Regions from separate parts of the Homo sapiens genome. Here region 2 is linked to region 1. Evidence: fine-mapped expression QTL. Tissue or cell type: whole blood. Region 1 holds a variant in brackets; the other region holds the start of a gene. All regions are shown on one strand. Distances are from middle to middle.

Region 1 (8,104 bases):
AAAATAGACCCCCTTGCCTAGAGTAAGTTGTTAACTGAGGGCTTTAAACCTGGAGGCTCTTCCTGAAAGTATGTTCATGAATACCCCAAGCATCAAGGTCTAAATAATTTTCAGAAGATTAGAATTGGGTAGATATACTGTTGGATATAGCCATGGTAAATTTAACTGAGGAATTAAATCCTTGTTAATTTTGGTGTAAAGATTTGTATCCTGGCCTGTTTATTCAGGTGGGAGATGTTCTGTATAATTTTGAGGTATAGCTTGAACTCCTAGAACAAGAGTTAAAAGTTCTTTTTAGCTCATTCACAATCACTTGTGTGTTAAGTGTTAATATCTGTCATGAACCTGCCAATTTGTACGTGTTAAGCAGCTGACAGATGATGCAAAAAAAACTAAGATACACTGGATTGTACTGGATGAGTCTGAAATTAGTGTTAAAGAAGTGTGGTGCCTGATGTTATAACAACACCTCATTCTTAACTGTGTGGCCAATGTCAGGTATACCAAAGCATTCCTCTGACTGCTTTTTGGGGCAGTGTTGACAGGAGTGAGGCATTTTGGAAACTCCAAGGGAAGCCTGTGTTTGAGGCCAGAGTTGGTACCTGCTTTAAGAAACTGTTACAGGGCTTGTTGGTAATGTTTTGAATCTTTGTAAAAATTGATATTCTGTATAACAGAGTGCCTCTCTGTTACTTTTGGCCTATGTTGTTAGAAATAAGATGCTATCTTGCATAGTTAGAATTAAGCGTTTGTCCATCTCTAGATAACATTGAAAAGTTTGAGTGTTACAGGCTCTAAAGTGCAATGGAGAACAATTGCTTAGGAGGAGGAAGGGGAAAGTATACTTATGTTGGTGTGTAAGCATGCATGGAGGCCTCGAGGCACCACAACAAGGCCAGGTTCTTAGCACATCCTCTGTTCTCTACCTGTCATGCTTCAAGAGTTCCAGCTGGCCTGCTGTGAAGCCAGTAGCTATTTTAAAAGTGCTGGCTGCAGGATTAAGCCAACCCTTTACAACTGGCCCAGACCGTAATGGCCATTTCTTCTTAAAAAAAAAAAAATTTTTTTTTTTTTTTTTTTTTTTTTTTTTTTTTTTTTTGGTGTGTGTGTGTGTGTGTGTGGGGAAGGGTGTGGGTGCTGGGATGGGGGTGAATTTCAAGTTGAAACACGATGATGTGGTCTGCTTGCTCTCTGCTTAGACAGGCTTTAAGACCAATTGGATTTTCATGGAGGCCAGGACAGAGAGTGGTAATTGATGGCTTGTGTACAGACAAGCATTTATCCAGGTTGCGTTATCCAAACTGATTTGTTAAAGCTCCAGGTCACGTTCTTACACTAAGAAAATCATTCAGTAAACATGAGACAAGTTTAGGAAAAACTAATAAAATAAACCTGTCTTAAACTTGAATGGTTTCCTTAATTCCATAATGAAGGCTGCTGGGTGTGTGTGTGGGGGTGTGTGTGTATGTGTGTGTGTCTGTGTGTATGTGTGTGTGGGGTGGGGGCGGGGGGTGTGTTTTCAATAAAAATGTTCTCTAGGAGTAGGAACCCTCTGAGCTAAATTTCACTTAACATCCGTTGAAGACTTCCAGTCTGAAGAGTGACAGCTGAAGCACACTGCCTACTTTGTGAGAAAATGTTGCCTAATTTTTCTGTACTCAAACTCTCCAGTTGAGTCTTGGCCCAGTTCCTTTGGTGTTAGGAATCCTTGTCTTGCTCCTGTGACTGGGCCTTACTTTGAGGGTTTTGTTAGCAGAAGGCGGGGGTTATGGCATAAAGGTAAGTGCTAGGACTTACACCTGGCCAAAGAACAGCGCGGTCCAGAGTGTGCTAGAATAGTTGGCGCCACTGGATGTGTGGTGTGGCTGCGTGGAATGTGTGTTGGTGTATGTATGTGGTGGTGATGGGTGTTTAAAGGGCACTAAGCCAGTGAAAAAGACCTTAACTGGATAAGGCATGGGTCTAGACGAGGAGGGGTCAGGGGTCTTGTTCCCTGGGTCATGCCCCTTGCACAGTCCTAGTCCTCTGGCTGTAGGAGCAGCTTACCTGCCAGGGCCTACCCAGGGCCTATTGTAGCCACGTGTCTGAGAAACGTGTGTCTAGTAGGTTTGGTTTCCTCCTGAGCATGTAAGTGGTTTCTGTAGGGGAATTGTTAGATGTGGTAGAAAGAGCTGAGATAGCTGGGTGTGGTGGTGTGCACCTGTGATTCCAGATACTTGGGGGGCTGAGGCAGGAGGATCACTTGAGCCCAGGTGGTCAAAGCTGCAGTGAACTGAGATTGTGCTATTGCAACTCCAGCCTGGGTGATAAAGTGATACCCTGTCTCCTTAAAAGGTGGGGGCCTGAGAGATCAGGGTTCTGTTGTGGGGCAGTGGGAGCTGCTTTGCAGGGGCACAGGGGGCCTGGGGGTTGTTGGAGGTAGTGGGACTTAGTCCACCTTTGAGGGGACAGCCAAATGAAGGGGAAAATTGCTGGTTTTGGTACCTGCAGGAAGAGGGAAGATGTAAGCATGGTTCCAGCTGAAAACCATGCTTTAGAAGTTGGGATAGTAGTTACTCTTTGTGGAGTAGTGACAACATGATGTGAGGCTTGGTGATGCTTGTTTTTTGATCTGACTTGATAGTGTACTCATGTACACTTGATCTATTTCAATAATTTTAAGTGGCTTTAACAGAAAGGTGTGTATTTTTTTTTTTTTTTTTTGAGATGGAGTCTCGCTTTGTCACCCAGGCTGCAGTGCAGTGGCGGGATCTTGGTTTACTGCAACCTCTGCCTCCCGGGTTCAAGTGATTCTTCTGCCTCAGCCTCCCGAGTAACGGACTGGAGGCGTGCGCCACCACGCACTGCTAATTTTTGTATTTTTAGTAGAGACAGGGTTTCACTGTATTGGCCAGGCTGGTCTCGAACTCCTGACCTTGTGATCTGCCCACCTTGGCCTCCCAAAGTGCCAGGATTACAGGTGTGAGCCACCATGCCTGGCCTACATTTTTACACACACAATGTAGGTTATAAAACTACATAGCCTCTCATGTTTTGAAAGAACATTAAATGGGTTTGCAATAAAAAAGCCAGAAGGATTTTCCCAGATGAAGTGGTTTTTAGGGTGGGATTGTGGGTGATTGTTTATTTTTGCTTGTTTCTGTTTTCAGAGTTTGCTACAATAAGCATTTAGGGCCAGGCATGGTGGCTCATGCCTGTAATCCCAGCCAAAGTGGGAGGATCTCTTGGGTCCAGGAGTTCAAGACCAGCCTGGGCAACATGGGGAGACAAGCCCCTACCCCCCACCGCCTCCTGTCACTAATAAAAGCATTTAGGAATTTTATAATGTTAAGAAAACTAGAAGTGTGTTTTAAGAAGAATGGCTCCAAGGTTTCAAACCTAGAATACGGGATAT[G/A]ATTGTACATGTGGAGCTTCTAGTCTTGAGTCATTGGAGATGTGGTGGGAGTTTAGATTGAGAAGTTTTCCTGGGTGGGGTTGAGACATCGAAGCTCCAGGTGGGTGTGGATGGAAGCTTTTGGGGCTGGAGTCGTGTTCCTCATTGACGGGATGAAGGCTTGTGTTGAGATGTGTTAGGAAGAGGAAGTAAAAGCTTTGAAAGAAGGAACTGCCAGAGAGGAGTTATGATGCATAAAGCATGTTGGGAGGAAGGGAGCTAGAGATGTGAGATGTGGCAGTGGCCAGCAGGGTTAGATGCTTCAGTAGGGTGGGAGCTGGGTGGGGTGAAGGGGCTTGAGGTGAGGCTGCAGGTGCTGAGTACTTGGTCAAGAAGCTTGGCCTCAGCCGCCCCGTCCGGGAGGGAGGTGGGGGGGTCGGCCCCCCGCCCGGCCAGCCGCCCCGTCCGGGAGGGAGGTGGGGGGGGTCAGCCCCCCCGCCCAGCCAGCTGCCCTGTCCGGGAGGTGAGGGGCGCCTCTGCCCGGCCGCCCCTACTGGGAAGTGAGGAGCCCCTCTGCCCGGCCAGCCGCCCCGTCCGGGAGGGAGGTGGGGGGGTCAGCCCCCCCGCCCAGCCAGCCGCCCTGTCCGGGAGGTGAGGGGCGCCTCTGCCCGGCCGCCCCTACTGGGAAGTGAGGAGCCCCTCTGCCCGGCCAGCCGCCCCGTCCGGGAGGGAGGTGGGGGGGTCAGCCCCCCCGCCCAGCCAGCCGCCCTGTCCGGGAGGTGAGGGGCGCCTCTGCCCGGCCGCCCCTACTGGGAAGTGAGGAGCCCCTCTGCCCGGCCACCACCCCGTCTGGGAGGTGTGCCCAACAGCTCATTGAGAACGGGCCAGGATGACAATGGCGGCTTTGTGGAATAGAAAGGCGGGAAAGGTGGGGAAAAGATTGAGAAATCGGATGGTTGCCGTGTCTGTGTAGAAAGAAGCAGACATGGGAGACTTTTCATTTTGTTCTGCACTAAGAAAAATTCCTCTGCCTTGGGATCCTGTTGATCTGTGACCTTACCCCCAACCCTGTGCTCTCTGAAACATGTGCTGTGTCCACTCAGGGTTAAATGGATTAAGGGCGGTGCAAGATGTGCTTTGTTAAACAGATGCTTGAAGGCAGCATGCTCGTTAAGAGTCATCACCAATCCCTAATCTCAAGTAATCAGGGACACAAACACTGCGGAAGGCCGCAGGGTCCTCTGCCTAGGAAAACCAGAGACCTTTGTTCACTTGTTTATCTGCTGACCTTCCCTCCACTATTGTCCCATGACCCTGCCAAATCCCCCTCTGTGAGAAACACCCAAGAATTATCAATAAAAAAATAAATTAAAAAAAAAAAAATAAAAAAAAAAAATAAAAAAAAAAAAGCAAAAAAAAAAAAAAAAAAAGAAGCTTGGCCTCTGAAATGAGGCATCAGTCTGCGAGAAAGGAGGTTGGGCAGTGTCCTGTGTGTAAATGGGGATGGTTCCCACCACTTACTTGAGACCATTGGGAATCTTGGAGTTGCCAGTACATTCCTTGGATGTACTTGGCTTTGGCTGGGGCAGCCCTGGGCCATGACCCTCTAACCTGGAATGCCACTGTTTTTGTGAACTGCTATTTTGAGCAGATATTGCAAGAAGTGTAGAAACTAAAGAGGTGACTTCTTAAGCATCAGTCTAGGAGGCAAATAGGGAAAATGGCCAAGTTGAGGTACAAGCAACACATCTGGAAAGATAAAGGAGGGTGTAAATTTCTGGAGGATCAGGGAAGGAAAGACCTCAGAGTATTTAAAAAAATACAGAATGCTTTCCAGATTTGCTCAATATCCATGGGCAAGTGCCAGGCTAATCCTGACCTTATTCCTCCAGTTTCAGCACACGTCATTAGGACAGGGTGAGTAGAGACTCTTTACTCTCCCTTCGTAAGTGGCATTCGCCAGCTTCAAACACAACACAGAAAAGACTACAGAAAGCTGTGTTTTTATCGGGCCTGTTCACTAGTGTGTCTGGGTTTACATCCTTCAAGGGCGAGATGGACTATTAGATTTGGAGTCCTGGATCAGTTGAGGGAGAGAAAGCACTGCAAGTACTTTATCACAAGTAAGCAGACCTTTACTCACCACATACTGGAGGTCTCCCATTTTTTTTTCTACATGAACTTTAAAATGTATTTTAAAATATCTATTATTTAAATTAGACTCAGCTAATGCTTGCAGAAGAGAAAGCTGGAAACAGATGGTCTTGGAAGACCAGTCAGTGGCCCAGCTTCCAGGATGTAAATCCCAGCAAAGGATTTCTAAGGATGAGCTGGGTCAGTATATATTCCACAAAAGGATGGTTCCAGTTATAGGGTACCTTTCAGGAGTGCCAGTGGGGAGCTTTGTAGGACCCGTGTAAGGCTGCCATGAGGAGCCGGTGAGCTGTCTGGGTTAGGAAAGTTGAAAGGGCCCATGCAGTGGTAAAGGAGGCCGCAGCATGAGTGAAGGTCTTTCCTCTGTGACTGGTCCTGTCCTTGTCTTCTACATCCCACAACTGAAGGAGGGACTCTGCCTGGGTTACAGCTGCCTCCGTGCAGCCCGGCAAGAAGCAGGGAATGGAGAAGGCGCTCAGTGAATACTTGAAGGCAGAAATGCAGTATTTTACTGTTTTCTATTATTTTCAATGAGGGGAAAAACGGTAAAACTCTTTTTGAAGTCATCAGACCTTCCATTTTTGGGGATGAGGAAAGAGTCTCACAGAACGGGTGGATGGCAGAGCCAAGAATTTTAATGCCAGCTGTTTTGAAGAGTGCTACTTTTCTGGAAAGTTGTATGGCTAGACTATGGGGCTTTTGCCTTCCAAGAAGTCGCCCTGAGTGTAGCATTAGTTGGAGTAACACTCCCTAAGAATCTGACGTTCCCCTCCGGCCAATTCTGATTTGGTCTTGTGTGAAATCGCAGTGCTTGTGTTGCCACATGGGGGCGCCATCGCTCTTCCTTTGCCGTGGTGGTTGGTTCCGTGCGTAGATCAGACTTCACTCCTTGAGGAGTCCCAGAAGTTTGGAGAACACAGACGGCCACCTCCTCTCCTTCTGGGTAGCTAAAAGCAAAATAAGTATGGTTTAACAGAGTCCTCAAGCTAGCAAGCAGGGGCTCAAGCAAGAAAGTAGGCCTTTTGCTACTAATCTCTTAGGTCCTTACCACCCAAAGTATGACATCACTGTTAAAAAGAAGAATCTTGGACTGCTCCCAGACCTCAGGTAGATCCCAGCCCAGTGCTTCTCAGTATACCTGGGGATCTTGCTAAAATGCAGATTCTGATTCAGCAGGTCAGAGTGGGGCTGAAGAGTCCATTTTTTTTCTTTTCTTTCTTTCTTTTTTTTTTTTGATGGAGTCTCACTCTGTCACCCAGGCTGGAGTGCAGTGGCGCGAGCTCAGCTCACTGCAACCTCTGCTGCCCGGGTTCAAGCGATTCTCCTGCCTCAGGCTACCAAGTAGCTGGGATTACAGGTGCCTGCCACCACGCCCGGCTAATTTTTGTAGTTTTAGTAGGGATGGGGTTTCACCATCTTGGCCAGGCTGGTCTTGAATTCCTGACCTCGTGATACACCTGCCTTGGCCTCCCAAAGGGCTGGGATTACAGGTGTGAGCCACCATGCCCGGCGAAGAGTCCATTTCTATCAAGTTCCCAGGAGATGCCTATCATGGACTGTGCTTTGACTGAGAAAGACAACCTATAGGAGCCTCAGTTCCTTCGCCTGTAAAACGGGGGTAACACCAGGCCTGTCCGGCATGTGAGATGATGCATGCGGAAGGCACTGAAGACAGGAAGAACAAAGGTATTGCTCACAACAGGTGTGCAACTTGCCCTTTAAAGTGCAGAGTAGCTGACCCAGACATAAGTAGTCCGAGTTACCATAGCCTCCTGGCCTTTCTTGTCCTTACCCCACCAGGAGCCCAGGCTCCAGAGGAACAAGGTAGAAAGTCAACCTAAGAACCAAAGATGTACCGCCCTCCCGTGTGACATGGTCATAGTCCCCGGATGGGGAGGGAGTGCTGCTTCCTGCCCCTGGGGTGACACGTGAATCCATCCCACCTGGATGGAGGAACGGAGGTCCCTCTTTCCTTTTGACTTGAGCCAGTCCAATGGACTCAGCCTCGTGTGATCCTATTAGTAGCTTCAGCAAGGAGCAGGAACAACACACTGACCCCTGTTCAAGGTGGAGTTCTGTAGCTGTGGGTAGAGACTCCTAGAAAGCAGCGATTTGCCTCTGAATCCTGGACATCTGCTGTAGAAAAGTGAGGAAGAGCTTCAGAATGCCTGGGCTCCGTGTGAGGCTCCTGAGGCCCAGTTTTATTTCCTTGCCTAACTTGTGGTGGAGAGGCCAAATATGCATGGCATAAAAGAGACAAGAAGGCCGGGTGTGGTGGCTCATGCTATAATCCCAGCACTTTGGGAGGCTGAGGCAGGTGGATTGCCTGAGGTCAGGGGTTTGAGACCAGCCTGGCCAACATGGTGAAACTCCGTCTCTACTAAAAATACAAAAATTACCCTGGTGTGGTGGCGGGTGCCTGTAATCCCAGCTACTTGGGAGGCTGAGGCATGAGAATTGCTTGAACCTGGGAGGCAGAGGTTGCAGTGAGCCATGATTGCACCACTGTACTCCAACCTGGGCGACAAAGCGAGACTCTGTCTCAAAAAAAAAAAAAAAGACAAGATTTCTTGGTGT
Region 2 (8,104 bases), 57 kb before region 1:
TTTCGCGTGGGCGAGGGCTCAGTGGCCTGCACTCAGCGCTGCCGACTGGTGCCTGCTGGGCTTGATGGGGGGATGAACTCCCTCTGGGCTGCTGGAGTGCCCCGGCTAGATGCCACAAAGTCCCATGGTGAGTGCCATTGAGAGGTGAAGCCGGCTGCGCTTCTGGGTCTGGTGGGGACTTGGAGAACTTTTCTGTCCAGCTAAAGGACTGTAAACGCACCAATCAGAACTCTATGTCTAGCTAAAGGTTTGTAAACGCACCAATCAGCACTCTGTGTCTAGCTGGAGGTTTGTAAATGCACCAATCTGCACTCTGTGTCTAGCTAATCAGGTAGGGTACTTGGAGAACTTTTGTGTCTAGCTAAAGGATTGTAAATGCACCAATCAGCACTCTGTGTCTAGCTAAAGGTTTGTAAAGACACCAATCAGCACTCGGTCAAAACGGACCAGTCAGCTCTCTGTAAAATGGACCAATTGGCACTCTGTAAAATGGACCAATCAGCAGGATGTGGGTGGGGCCAGATAAAGGAATAAAAGCAGGCTGCGTGCCCCCCACCTTCCCCAACAACCAGCAGCGCAACCTGGTCAGGTCCCCTTCCACACTGTGAAAGTTTTGTTCTTTTGCTCTTCACAATAGATCTTGCTGCTGCTCACTCTTTGAGACTGCGCTGCCTTTAAAAGCTATAACACTCACTGCAAAGTTCTACAGCTTCACTCCCGAAGTCAGCGTAGAACACGAACCCACCAGAAGGAAGAAACTTCAGACACGTCCGAACAGCAGAAGGAACAAACTCTGGACACACCATCTTTAAGAAATGTAACACCGCGAGGGTCTGCAGCTTCATTCTTGAAGTTAGGGAGACCAAGAACCTACCAATTCTGGACACACTGGGATTACAGGCATGAGCCACTGTGCCTGGCTAAGAGATCCTCATTTTTACAAAAAAATGAAAAAATGAGTTGTATGTGGCAGCACATGCCTGTAGTCCTAGCTACTCAGGAGGCTGAGGTGGGAGGATTGTTTGAGCCCAGGCTGCAGTGAGCTATGAACGTGACACTGCACTCCAGTCTGGGTGACAGAAAGCGATCATCTAAAAGAAGAAATAGAGAAGCAGTGTAGTTGTGAGAAAATTGTGTGACCTTGAACAAGTACCTTAACCTTATCAGGTCTCTATAAAATAGGAAAAATATCACCTACCTGATGGGCTTGCTATGACGAGTAAAGGAATTATATTGGTATCAATACAGTGTCTGGCGTAATGCTAGCATATGCTGTAGGAATGCCAGAGACATGGTAATTACCATTATTATTGAGTTATTGGAGTTTTGGTGTTTAAGAAAGGGTTGTTGCTTTGACTAAAAGCATTGCTCCACTCACTGTAAGATCAGGGAAGTCAGAAAATCACCATTATCTGAGCAGGTAGTTTCCTTGTGAAGCAAAAAATTGCAGAAGCTGCTCCAGAGCGTAGGGCAGGATTCCACTGGACACTTGTCAGGGAGAAATATGAGTCCCCAGCTGATGGAGAACCTTTTGTCTTTTGTTGGGCAGCCTATGAACACTGTATATTTAAAAACAAACACTTCTGTGATTGCTTAGGACTAAATTTAATCGTTGTATTTGAGAGTGGCATTTAACAACTTCCTGCTTTTAAAATACTTAAATACCTAAGATACTCTGCCAAATGGAAAGAATTTGTTCTCCGAACACAGTGCCTCCAACATTAAATATTCTGGACACTTCGTTGGTTCGCAACTGTGATACTTGGAAACTTGCCACGTTAGATTCTTCAGGATTCTAAAATAACCTTTTCCTGACTTCATTTATTTAAATATCCCAGAATAATCTCTTAAGCTATAAGTTTGATGATCCAGGAAACTATTTATAGGAGGATGAGTACTCTCTGTGACTGATGGTAGTTATGTTTTATTTTGAGAAGGACAAATCATTAAAAAGATTGATAGGGCTGGTGGTATTTTAAACTGAAAGCAGTACCAAGGCAAACAAGGCAGTTGAGGTATGAAGTTGGAACATAATAAGATATGGGTGTAATTTTCATCAACTTAGCTAAGACCTAGGGAGGTCTTCCAATAGAAGGAAGGCAGAAACAGGCAGTAACACAGACAGTGATCTTTTAGGTCCACTGGACACTTTAGCTTAGGCAGCTCGGGTTGTTTGCTCAGTGATTAACAACTGAGATAAACAGATGGAGACAGGACTCTGTCATAATTAAGGTCAACAGTGTGCTTGGTATTATTGATATTGCCCCTAGGTAGGAGAAAAACAGAGGAAGGAAGGTCAAGGTCAACCTAACTTAAAAAAACTTTAAAAAATTGTGGTGAAATATACATAAAATTTACCATTTTCATCATTTTTAAATGTACAAATCTGTCACTGATCATGCACATTGTTATGCAACTACCACCAGCATCTATCTCCAGAACTTTCTCATCTTCCCAAACTGAAACTCTGTATCCCTTAACTCTCCATTTCACTCTACTTGTGAAACCGCTTTTCTGTCTTTATGTAGTTTATTGTAGGTGCCTGATACAAGTGGAATCATATTAAATTTTGAATATAAAATTAAAAATTAAAAAAAATTAATTTTGATTTGTTTGGCTTTCCACTTAGCGTATTTTCAAGGTTCATTCATGCTGTAGCATTTATCAGACTTTCATTCCTTTGTCTTTTCAAAGCTGTATAATGTACTGTTACGCGTATACACTAAATTTAGAAAACTCATTCATCTGTCAATGGACATGTGGATTGTTTCCTCCTTTTAGCTACCGTGAATAAACTACTATGAACATGGGTATACAATGTACAAATATGTCCCTGCTCTCGTTTTTCCAAAGGCTGTTCCTGGCTGCCTCTACTCTTTTTATTCCCAGTACCCTTTTACAGGTAGCACCTGGTACTTGTCTTTGAAGAATTAACAGGTTTTAGTTAGGCAAAATGTGAGAACAGTGTGGCCATTTGCAAGTTTTAATGGTAATCAACCCGGGTTTGGGGTTGCTCCTATAGAGTGAAGTACCTCCGGAGGTGGCAGGAAATGCAGGTATTTAAAGGGAAGGGCATACCAGGGCAATGTAATTTCTTCTTTGCTCATTCACTTTTAAAATGGCTGAAGGGCAGGTACTCTAGCCTTGAGACCTTCAACTCATGATGTACCCTCCAGCAACGGAGAATTTCTTTTTAGTCCTTAAACTATGGTCTCTATTGCTAGTTTTCCAAACTTGAACACAGCCTTTTCCTTTTCTGGGAAGTTGTCCTAGTCTCCACCATTCTGTGCATATAGCACTCGCCATTCTGTACTGGGGTCACCTTTACTTGTTTAGCCACCCTCATGATGGGGATGATCCAGGTTTTGCAGAGGTGAAACTTATATACCATTGGGGGGCCCTACAAATACACAAAACAAATAATTAAAACGACAAATCACAACACATTACTAGAGACTTGGAGATTCAGATTCTCCTTAGATCTCTCTGGGTAATTTATTAGAAATGCTTACATAGATTTGCTTCCTAATCTCAAGCTGGCTTCCCCTCTCCACAACTCAGCAACTATCTATTCTCCCAGGAGGCCATACAAGCGAGGGGCCCTGAAGCTTAACATTTATTAACTTCATGTAAAGGTCTGAGCGGACCTTTCAGGCCAGGCAGCGTGTCACTTGCCTGTGTTCCTTGTTAGGGCCTACCACCGGGTAGGTGCTTGGAATGTGCTGTGGATTAAAGGCTTAAATCCTGCGGGCCCCTCAATCTGATCTAAGGACATGAGTGGCTTAGAGAACGGCGCAACAAGGCTAAGCGAAAGAAAACAAAGCGGTGTGGCTGGGAGTGGGCTCCTTCCCTCCGCTGGTGAGGGTGCGATCTTAGACTCTTGAGAGAACCCGACATAAAGGCCGCGTTCCAATGGCGGCCTTCTCCCCTACCGGCCAACCTGCCCCGAAAAGAGCAGAAGGCACCCTGCGGGATCTGCAGATCAGCTTGCGTCTCATTCTGGGGCACCGACACGGTGGAATGCAAGACACCCCACTACCGGAAGTTTCTTTGATGTTAAGAAAAACGGCGGAAGTAGGCCGCAGCGCTTCCTCAGTATAGTGCCTCGAGCTGGCTCGCCTACTTTCTACGGTAAAGGGAGGTGCTCCACATCTCTATGCAGCTGTGCAGCGCCGCAGGTTCCATGCGCAGGCTCGGTTGGCTAAATGCGCTTTCCAGCCATCTTTCAGCCACCCAGTCCTTTCCCAGGTTCTCGAGCCAGGACGTGACGTATTCAGACGTACTGGGGGCGGGGCCTCAAGGGGAAAAGCGCCTGAGCCGGGATATCGCGAGAACATCCCGTTCTTTCGTAGCTCTGGTGCTGCGGCTCCGCTCTCGTCGCAACGAGATCTTTCGAGATCTTCTCCGCCCCCGCTACCGGCGCCTCCTCTGCGGCCACTGAGCCGGAGCCGGCCTGAGCAGCGCTCTCGGTTGCAGTACCCACTGGAAGGACTTAGGCGCTCGCGTGGACACCGCAAGCCCCTCAGTAGCCTCGGCCCAAGAGGCCTGCTTTCCACTCGCTAGCCCCGCCGGGGGTCCGTGTCCTGTCTCGGTGGCCGGACCCGGGCCCGAGCCCGAGCAGTAGCCGGCGCCATGTCGGTGGTGGGCATAGACCTGGGCTTCCAGAGCTGCTACGTCGCTGTGGCCCGCGCCGGCGGCATCGAGACTATCGCTAATGAGTATAGCGACCGCTGCACGCCGTAAGTGTGGGCCGGGCCTGCCGCGTGCACTGGGGTTAGGAGATAATGCTTGTTCCAGTCTGGGACCCTCGCTGCTTGGGGAACGCGGGCCGAGGAGTCGCCTCCGTTCCGAGCCGAGGTCCCGGTAGGTCAGGGACCCCCAGTAGGTATTAGGACACTAGGGGCCGCGGCCCACTATGAGCGTGGGTGTGTGCTAAGCGCGAGGGCCTTTTCCCCGGTGGCCCGTCGGCCGAAGAAAGGCTTCTGGCCGGTACTCGGACCAGCGGAGGGCACGGGTAGGAACTGGAAGGACTGCAGGCCTAGGATGTAAACGGATCGCGGTCCTTTTCTTGAGGGCAGAGACCAGGCCCAGGTCGTACTGAGTCTTTTGAGTCCAACAGAAAGCTCAGAACTTTGCACACAGCAGGCGCTTAATAATAGTTGAATCGAACGGGTTCTGGGGCTTGCCAGCCGCGAGACCGTGGAGCGGTCAGCGTCCCACGTGAGTGGGGGCGGGGCAGCGCCCGGAAGAGAGCGAGCTGGAGCAGCCTCAGGCACGGGTTCCGGATGGACTCGGGGTCTTGAGATTGGGTTGGCACGGATAGGAATTTAATAAAATCGGTGCTCTTATGATAACTTTGCAATCGCTTTTGTTTTCCACATTATTTCGGGATATTGTGCTATATTGGGTCACTCTCTGTTTTGTGCGCGTTAACCCCTCAATAGGGTTGCACTTTAACGATAATGCATTCTAACCAGTGTGTTGGCCACAATTGTTAGTGGCTCAAGGGCCCGCCTTGACTTCTAGAACCCATAGTAAGTTTTGGGACCAGCATAGACACAGTTCTAAAAAATGGTGGGTCACTCAGGTCTTTCACTGGTTACAGTGTCTGCCTTTTGAATACTTGTAGATACATTTTAATCCGTTGTCGTGTTCTTAGACAAAATCTTGTAAGAAGTTCTGTATTATTTGCCATTCAGGGTCTCTCTTCTTTTTTTTTTTTTTTTTTTCTTTTTTGAGACAGACAGGGTCTCACTCTGGCTGCCCAGGCTGGAGTGCAGTGGTGCGATCTTGGTTCACTGCAGCCTCGACCTCCCTGGCTCCTGGCTCAGGTGATTCTCCCACCTCAGCCTCCTGAGTAGCTGGCGTTGCAGGCGTGCGCCACCATGCTTGGCTAATTTTATTTATTTTTAGTAGAAATCGGGTTTCACTATGTCACTCAGGATGGTCTCGAACTTCTGGACTCAAGCAGTCCTCCAGCCTCGGCCTTCTGGAGTACTGGGCTTACAGGCATGAACCACCGTGCCCTGCCCAGGGGCTCACTTGTTATTGATTGATTGAGATGGAGTCTCGCTCTGTCGCCCCAGGCTGGAGTGCAGTGGCATGCTCTCGGCTCATTGCAACCTCGGCCTCTGGGGTTCATGCGATTCTCCTGCCTCAGTCTCCTGAGGAGCTGGGATTACAGGCGCGTGCTACCATGCCCGGCTAAATTTTGTATTTTTAGTAGAGACGGGGTGTTGTCGAGTTGCCCAGGCTGGTCTCGAACTCCTGACCTCAAGTGATCCTCCCGCCTCGGCCTCCCAAAGTGCTAGGATTACAGGCGTGAGTCACGGTGCCCGGCCCCAGGGGCTCAATTCTAAGGTCCATTATTTTCACCCTCAATTTTTGTCACATTTCTTCAGCAGGTTTCAGCGAAACTAGATTGTTCAGAAGTCTCACATTTCCTTTCCACTTGTCAAATTTCCGCACCCCCCACCTCCTAACCCAGGTGCTTCCCCTGAAAACTCATCCCAGAAGCCAAAACGGTAGTTTGCTGTCCCTTTGCTGAGTTTAGTCTTGTTAACAGCCCTATTAAGGTTTATTTATTTATTTATTTATTTTGAGAAAAGGAGTCTTACTCTGTTCCCTACGCTGGAGTGCAGTGGCGTAATCTCGGCTCACTGCAGCCTCCGCCTCCTGGGTTCAAGCGATTCTCCTGCGTCAGCCTCCCGAGTAGCTGGGATTACAGGTGTGCGCCACCACGCCTGGCTAATTTTTGTCTTTTTTAGTAGAGACAGGGTTTCACCATGTTGGCCAGGGTGGGCTCGAACTCTTGACCTCAAGTGATCTGCCTGCCTCGGCTTTCCAAAGTGCTGGGTTTACAGGAGTGAGCCACCGCACCTGGCACAGCTTTATTAAGGTTTAATTCATATACTATACAATTTAACCAGATGAAGTGATCGTTTTTAGTGTAGTCACAAAACAGTGCAACCATTACTGTAATCAATTTTAGAACATTTTTATCACTCCCCCAAAGCCCTGTGCCCTTTAGCAGTTTATTTTCCCTATTTGTACTTTTTAACAATGGGTAGTCTAACTTGGCATCTCCAGGGAAGTGTATTGTGCCCTGAAGTTTTTTTTTAAGCATTAAAGTTTGTTTTTAAGCATTTTAGTATTTGAGAATATCTTTGTATCCGTGTTTTCTTGGTCTATAAAATGTCTCCCCTAAGGAACTGAAAAGGCTAAAGCGCTGAGTTAATGTATTTAGTGTTTTGGTCCTTTCCTGCCCTGTGATTGAACACGCTTTAGTTCCAAAGGGCGCACAGGAAGAGAATCCCAAGTATGGGGAAGAACAGTGTTCCTATCCTTTCTTTTAGATTATTATCACATGCTCCTGTTTTTCTTTTAGAAAGACAATAGCTACAACAATTATACCATGAATTCTATTTGAAACTGAGTTGTTGCAGATAAAAAATTTGCCTCAAAGACATTGTGATATATATGACCCCATACACCACGGAATTGTGATAAGAAAATTCCATTTAAATAATTTTCCTTACATGTTTTCTTTATATTTTCCTTCATAGTTTTCATTAACTTACAGGCATGCCATACATTTCAAGTGATTTCTGAACTGTATGATTTTGATTCACTTTGATTACTCTGTTTTGGAGTCTTGGGCTAAATAGAAAATGGTAGCAGGAAGGTTGATTTTTTTTTTTTTTTTTTTTTTTTTTTTTTTGGTAGCGGTTATGGAGGAATGGATTTGGAGCTCATATGTAAAAAAGACTGCATGTTGTGGGTTTGTTTTAACATGAGAGTGGAAATGAGATGCAAGTCTTAGAGGGTTTATGATGGTGGAAGTACCTCGTTTCAGATATGGGTGTAACAATCTGGATTAGGTTTTTGAGGAGCCAGTGGAGTCTCATCCAGAAGAGACCCTTGATTTTCCACCCAATTTAGGCTTCCTTCATTTTATCAGATGTTGAGTGCCTCTGATGTGGTAGCCATTTTTCTAAGCACTGGAGGTACTGTGGTGAACAAATAAGGTCATGCCATTATGGACATGGCTGGTGGATTAAACCAAATACTAAACAAAAATATGTAGTAATTACTAACTGTGGTA

The links. PIP is the estimated chance that this variant, and not a neighbour inherited with it, causes the effect.
Region 2: it holds the start of HSPA4, and the variant in region 1 is fine-mapped to the expression of HSPA4 in whole blood (INTERVAL, PIP above 0.99). The same link has a PIP of 0.9 or more in neutrophils.

Annotation. Positions count from the first base shown.
Region 1 is chr5:133,105,042-133,113,145 of GRCh38, forward strand. It overlaps HSPA4 (heat shock protein family A (Hsp70) member 4), which reads left to right. Exons shown (of 19, transcript NM_002154.4): 19 at 1-1,408. LOC105379178 (a long non-coding RNA gene) reads right to left here. Exons shown (of 3, transcript XR_948792.2): 3 at 6,027-6,474. Among named protein-coding and RNA genes, the nearest start is that of HSPA4, 57 kb to the left of the region's middle. RefSeq lists an enhancer at 3,476-3,525. The variant G/A (reference allele first, on the strand shown) is at 3,395.
Region 2 is chr5:133,047,619-133,055,722 of GRCh38, forward strand. It overlaps HSPA4 (heat shock protein family A (Hsp70) member 4), which reads left to right and starts at 4,395. Exons shown (of 19, transcript NM_002154.4): 1 at 4,395-4,739. The coding sequence starts at 4,633. RefSeq lists enhancers at 3,682-4,644, 3,831-3,880, 3,951-4,000, 4,191-4,370, 5,609-6,571.